2 linked regions of the Homo sapiens genome follow. The protein of the gene in region 2 interacts with the protein of the main gene of each other region in a pairwise test. Each region holds a gene or a part of one and is shown on either strand. Other genes may lie near its edges.

The links. The genes of interacting proteins can lie anywhere in the genome.
Region 1: the proteins of OAT (region 2) and RSPH1 interact in a two-hybrid assay, tested with the Homo sapiens proteins (one large-scale study listed by BioGRID and IntAct).

The regions. Positions count from the first base shown.
Region 1 is NC_000021.9:42,486,225-42,489,724, forward strand, and holds part of RSPH1 (radial spoke head 1 homolog), read right to left. Parts: intron 238-3,500; coding exon 147-237; intron 1-146.
Region 2 is NC_000010.11:124,399,364-124,401,923, forward strand, and holds part of OAT (ornithine aminotransferase, mitochondrial isoform 1 precursor), read right to left. Parts: intron 2,477-2,560; coding exon 2,363-2,476; intron 1,622-2,362; coding exon 1,477-1,621; intron 1-1,476. UniProt on the Homo sapiens protein: Catalyzes the reversible interconversion of L-ornithine and 2-oxoglutarate to L-glutamate semialdehyde and L-glutamate.

The DNA.
Region 1 (3,500 bases), on a different chromosome or scaffold from region 2:
AGCCATAGAAAGATTGGACCTGCCTGGCAGAGTTGGTAACTGGGCTTTTGTTATGATTCTGTTCCTCAGTAAGTGTAAACAATCTGCAGACATCATGTTCTCATTACATAAGCAAATCCCGTTAAGACCCAAGATAGAAACCGAACCTTTGATGAGCAAACCACTCTCCAGTGTAGGTGTCATTATTGATGTAGTAGTATACGCCATGGCCGTGCCGCAGGTCATTTGCCCACTCTCCTGAAAGGAACAACACAAAGGCAAGCCCAGGTGAGAAGAAGGGATCGATGCCCTGTACCATGTCTTCAAATTGTTAACCATGGCAAAGGCAGATGTGTTGTGAAGCAAATGAAGCCCATGCACACACAGGCCCCTTCTGCTCAGGAAATCCTGCAGAAGAGAGATTTTTAACAGCACCGACCAAGGCTGCTATCTGTTTCCACTCTGACATCCCTCCACCCCTTCCTTTTGTGCCAGATGGCATAGGTGCTGAGCCACGGTGGACAGTGGGCTAAGAGAGGGCTGAGTCAGGAGTTCACGGGGTACAGAGTGAGGTGTATGGATGTGGGCCACAGCCACCTGCATGTACTGACAAGCACATTTCACAGGTTAGTCAGAGGCACCACGAAGATGCAACGAGGAGGGAGACAAACCAAGGTTGTCTGACCCATTGCCAGTGATCCTAACACCACACTTCATTTACCTTGCAAATGTTTAGAGATCCAGCAACAACTCCAGGGCTTGACCATCTATCCTCAGCCACCTGGCAGCATTTCAGTCTATCTCCCACCCAATCATCTGACTCCAACATGCCACTCTAACCCCAGCTGCACACCAGCTCCATCCGCTGGTGCCATGCCTCTGTTTGAACTCTTCCCTCACCTCCTCACCTCCATACGGCTTCTGCTAAGTCCTTATAGGCTTGGTAGGCAGTACTGAAATTGGCAAGGATATCATAAAATTCATAATACCACTCCATGATGTGGACAACTGCAAACTACTTTTGTCAACCACAGTATGAATCCCTGCACTAGAAAACTCAAAACGTCCTCAAATCTTACAGCTCACTTAGGAAAGAAACTTAATAGAGGTCTCCCAAAGGTGACTGCTCTTAAAAACGTGCATATTACACCAAGTCATTAAGCTAAATGATATGTTTTGAGACTATGAATAATAAAAAGCAAATGTTGATCAATTTGTTGATCAAAGAGAAAAGAAGGAATTATATTTCTATTCTCTCTATAGAAAACATTACAAAATGGTTGCCATATGGAGAAGCATTCAAAGAGTATTAGCTAACAAAGGTAGAGAAAAGCTATTCTAGAAGTATGTCAGACATTAAAACTCAGGCTACTTAGATTCTGTGATGTTTGTGGTATTTTTAAATTTTTAACTTATTTTGATTTATCATTGCAAATGAAAATTCACTTTTATACCAACTTTATATTTTCTTTTTTTTAAAGAGGTTCTCAAAACTTACATAAGCTTCTGGCTTACACAAAAACTGGACCCACTTCCACATGAAGATAAAGAATACCCAATAGGCTAAGAAAATGCTAATTATTCAAGTAATATTTGTTTATGTGAATAACCCCAAAATTTATCTGCAGAAGGAACTTCTACATATTTATTTCCTCAATCATCCCATTATTTACTCAGCACCTACAATGTCCTGGGCACTTTGTGAGATGAACGAAGAGCTGTACAAAGGACAGTGCATGTCCCCAGGGCGCGAGCACCAGCCTGAGGATGGAAGGTTGGCACCTGAGCAGCAGCTGAGGACAGGGAAGGCAGCACGAAAAGCTGCATGGCACAATTTCAAAAAGTGGGTAAGTCATTCAGAAAAGAGCAGGCTTACCAAAAATTCATGGAGAGAGGGAAGGTGGCAACTGCTAACAATTAAGGAAGAGGACTAGGTCCCATGATGTGATGTGTGACAGGAACAATGTGAACAAGAGAGATGAAGATCCCCAAATTGAGATAATTCAGTAAAAAATACTTCAGGTCCCTGAACCTAAATTAACCATGAGGATGTGCAAATACCTAGAGGGATTTGTCTGGGTCTTAAGGGGCAGTGATGTGCCTGGATTTGTAACATTTGCCAGGTTCTGTGGTGTAAATACTCACACCGCGGCCAATTTCAAGCTACACATGGAGCTGGGAAGAGATGCACAGAATGGGTTTTTGTGAGCTACTATGAGGGGGTTCCAGCACAGCCCTGGGGCATAGAGACCTCAGCTGAAACAGGTACATCATTTGGTTTCTTCCCAACAAAACTTCATGACAAAATTATTACATCCCTCCTCTCTTGGCCATGTCAGAGGATCTCCAGGGTGTCATGGTGAGAAAAATATATTACATATTTTGCAGAAAAATTTCAAAAATAAAAGAGAACAGTTAAGTTGCAAAAGACACTAAATTTTGCACCAAGAGGACGGTGAGCAAAATTTTTTAAAGTCCCAATCTACTTAAAAAACCTGTTAAGAGGCTCGGCCCAGCATTTTGTAATGCCACCACAGGGACCCTGCACAAATAGAGAAGGTAATTCAGAGAAAAGTCACCTGCTGAGGCACATCTCTAACAGCTATAAGTCAAGTTTCCTTTTTTGAGGTGAGTGACATTTGTAAACTTTATTATTGTGGCTTTAAATTTGCACTTAATTTTTTTTTTAAAGTCTTTCTACCCCAATCCTATACTTTCTGATCATTCTTGAACTTGTCAACTGAGGTTTTTTCCAACTATATTTCTTCTCAGGAGTAACTCCCAGTTGGTTGGTTGGTTGGTTGGTTGGTTGATTTGTTGGTTAACTGGTTGGTTGGTTGGTTGGCTGGTTGGCTGGTTGGTTAGTTGGCTAACCGATTGGTTGGTTGGTTGGTTGGCTGGCTGGTTGGTTGGTTAACTGGTTGGCTGGGTGGTTGGCTAGTCAGTTGGCTGGTTGGTTGATTGGTTGGCTGTTTGGTTGGCTGGTTCGTTGGTTGTTTGGTTGGTTGGCTAGTCAGTTGACTGGTTTGTTGATTGGTTAGCTGTTTGGTTGGCTGGTTGGCTGGTTGGTTGGTTGGTTGGTTGGTTGGCTGGTTGGCTAATTGGTTGGTTGGTTAGACAGTTGGTTGGTTAATTGGTTGGTTGATTGGTTGCTTGGTTGGCTAGTCAGTTGGCTGGTTGGTTGATTGGTTGGCTGTTTGATTGGCTGGTTGTGGGTCAGTTGGCTGGTGTGGAGCAGGTGCTCCTTGGGTAGAGCAGTTTGTCTGGCACTTGGGATTGAAGACAATTTAAAATGAGAAGCTCTCCAAGATGCTCCTCCCCCCTCAAATGCTGGTTGGTCACTGGTTTGCCATGCTGGCCCATGGTCTTGCCAAGTTGGCTCCCTAAACTGCTGGGTCAGCCAAACACAGGAGAGAAGGAGCCCACACTTATGGGGAAACACTCGGTGTCAGACCCTGGGCAGGGTTCCGTGCACTTGCCACAGCATTTGGTATGTGTAATCGCTGAAATATGGTTTTACA
Region 2 (2,560 bases):
GAGACGGAGTCTCACTCTGCCGCCCAGGCTGGAGTGCAGCGGCGCAATCTCAGCTCACTGCAAGCTCCACCTCCCAGGTTCAAGCGATTCTCCTGCCTCAGCCTCCTGAGTAGCTGGGACTACAGGCACCCACCACCTCGCCTGGCTATTTTTTTGTATTTTTAGTAGAGATGGGGTTTCACTGTGTTAGCCAGGATGGTCTCGATCTCCTAACCTCGTGATCCACCCGTCTCGGCCTCCCAAAGTGCTGGGATTACAGGCATAAGACACCGCGCCCGGCCCCTCAGGTGATTCTTTAAGTGCAGCCAAGGTTGGGAGGTTGGAATCGTTGCTTTAAAAGGAAGAGTTATCACAAGAAAATCCAGCAAGGAACACCTAAGGGTTACAAAGGATGTACTAAAACATCAAACACCCAATTAAGTGACAGCCAGCATTATTTTTATTATTGACCCCATAACTGTCATTCATATCATTATTTCTGCTGCTCCTATAACCTCTACTGACACAAAGCATCAAAGTGAGGGAGGGAAGGATAGCAAAGAGGACACTTTCAAGTCCAGACTCACCAACAAAAAAACTTGAACTCTCTAAATACTGCATGACTAATTTAAGGCAGAAAAATAAGTGTCTTAAAGGAACAAGGGTCAAATTGGTTAAATGTGCCTTCATTTAGAAAAGAGCTATATTTTTTATACTCTTAATATAATTATAAATCAGACAATAATCTGTCTAAAAGGTTTGGTCATTATGTCAGTCAGCAGTTTCAAACAGAACATCCCAACACCCAATTAAAATACCAAGTGTGGCCAGGAGCAGTGGCTCATGCCTGTCATCTCAGCACTTTCAGAGGCTGAGGCAGGCGGATCACGAGGTCAGGAGATCGAGACCACCCTGGCCAACATGGTGAAACCCCATCTCTACCAAAAATACAAAAATTAGCTGGGCGTGTTGGCACGTGCCTGTAATACCAGCTACTCGGGAGGCTGAGGCAGGAGAATCGCTTGAACCGGGGCATCGGAAGTTGCAGTCAGCCAAAATGGCGCCATTGCACTCCAGCCTGGCAACAGAGCAAGACTCCATCTTAAAAAAAAAAAAAAAAAAAAAGTGTGGCCGGGCGCGGTGGGCTCACGCCTATAATCCCAACACTTTGGGAGGCCAACGCAGGTGGATCACGAGGTCAGGAGTTTGAGATCAGCCTGGCCAACATTATGAAACCCCATCTCTATTAAAAATATAAAGATTAGCTGGGCGTGGTGACAGGCGCCTGTAATCCCAGCTACTCAGGAGGCTGAGGCAGAGAATTGCTTGAACCCAGGAGGCAGAGTGCAGTGAGCCAAGATTGCGCCACGGCACTGCAGCCTAGGAGACAGAGCAAGACTCCGTCTCGAAAAATAAATAAATTAATTAAATTAAATACCAAGTGTATTTTAGGTCTTCCTTAAAAAATTATCTTGAGTAAATGTTTTATCTCCATACCTTTGGTTTCTTTAATGACAATAGCGTTTAATAATCCTTTTCCTCTTACGGCAGTTACAACATCAGAAGGTAGCTTCATGAGTTCATTTCTCAAGATAATGCCCAATTTGTCTGCATTTTCAGCAAGGTTTTCTTCTTCTAAAACCTACGTTTAAAGAAAAATTATACAAATATTAAGACTGTCCTTTTTTTGTTTTTTGGAGGACAACGGGGACTGTAAACACAGGAAAAACATGACTAGATAAAATACCAGAGGAACTTAACTTTCATTGCTATTTTTCAAAGCCTGTATTAGTTTCTAATTAAACATACACTAGCTCAGAGTCTTGCTTTCATCACAAATCTATTGCCAATCATTCATGGCAAAATAAGGATTAAAGTTTATTTAATGCAACTCACATACTGTCATTAATTGAATACATCAATGGACGAAATGTAATTCCTAAACTGCAATAGTTTCTTCCCCCCTCACAAAGATCTGTCCTCAGAGATTACATAATAATTGTATACCTTCAGCAGGCACTTAAAAAATCAGTCTGAAAACATTATAAATCCACACTTGAAAGAAGACTTGCTTGCTAAGCAAAAAGACGGGTCTGGTAGGTGGGTCACAGTTGAGAGTTCTATGAGGGCCAGCCAGGGCCGAAGAACTCAAAGCGCCAGGTGACTGTGAACTCAGGAAGCCCACGGAGGAAATCCAGTCTACTAGGCCAAGTTTAAATTACTTTTTGAGAATATCTTGTTCCTAAAATTTTTCCTCTATACTTCATGTTTTCTAATATTTGGCATTCTTATTGAATTTTTTATTATACCAGTGGGCCCAAATTAAAAATCACTTCAACATTGCTTTAAAGAATAGACACTGTGTGGCTGTATCAGTCTTTACCTCAAGGGCTGCGATGGCCACTCGGCAGCCTAGTGGATTGCCACCGTATGTGGACCCATGCTCCCCTGGCTTAATGGTCAGCATGATGTCATCATCACACAGCACTGCAGACACCTGAAAGACAGTCAATTCACCATGTCATTTCTCAGCACTAAGCATTCTACTAAGCATCCTTTTCCCCAGAGTCTCGCTGTCACC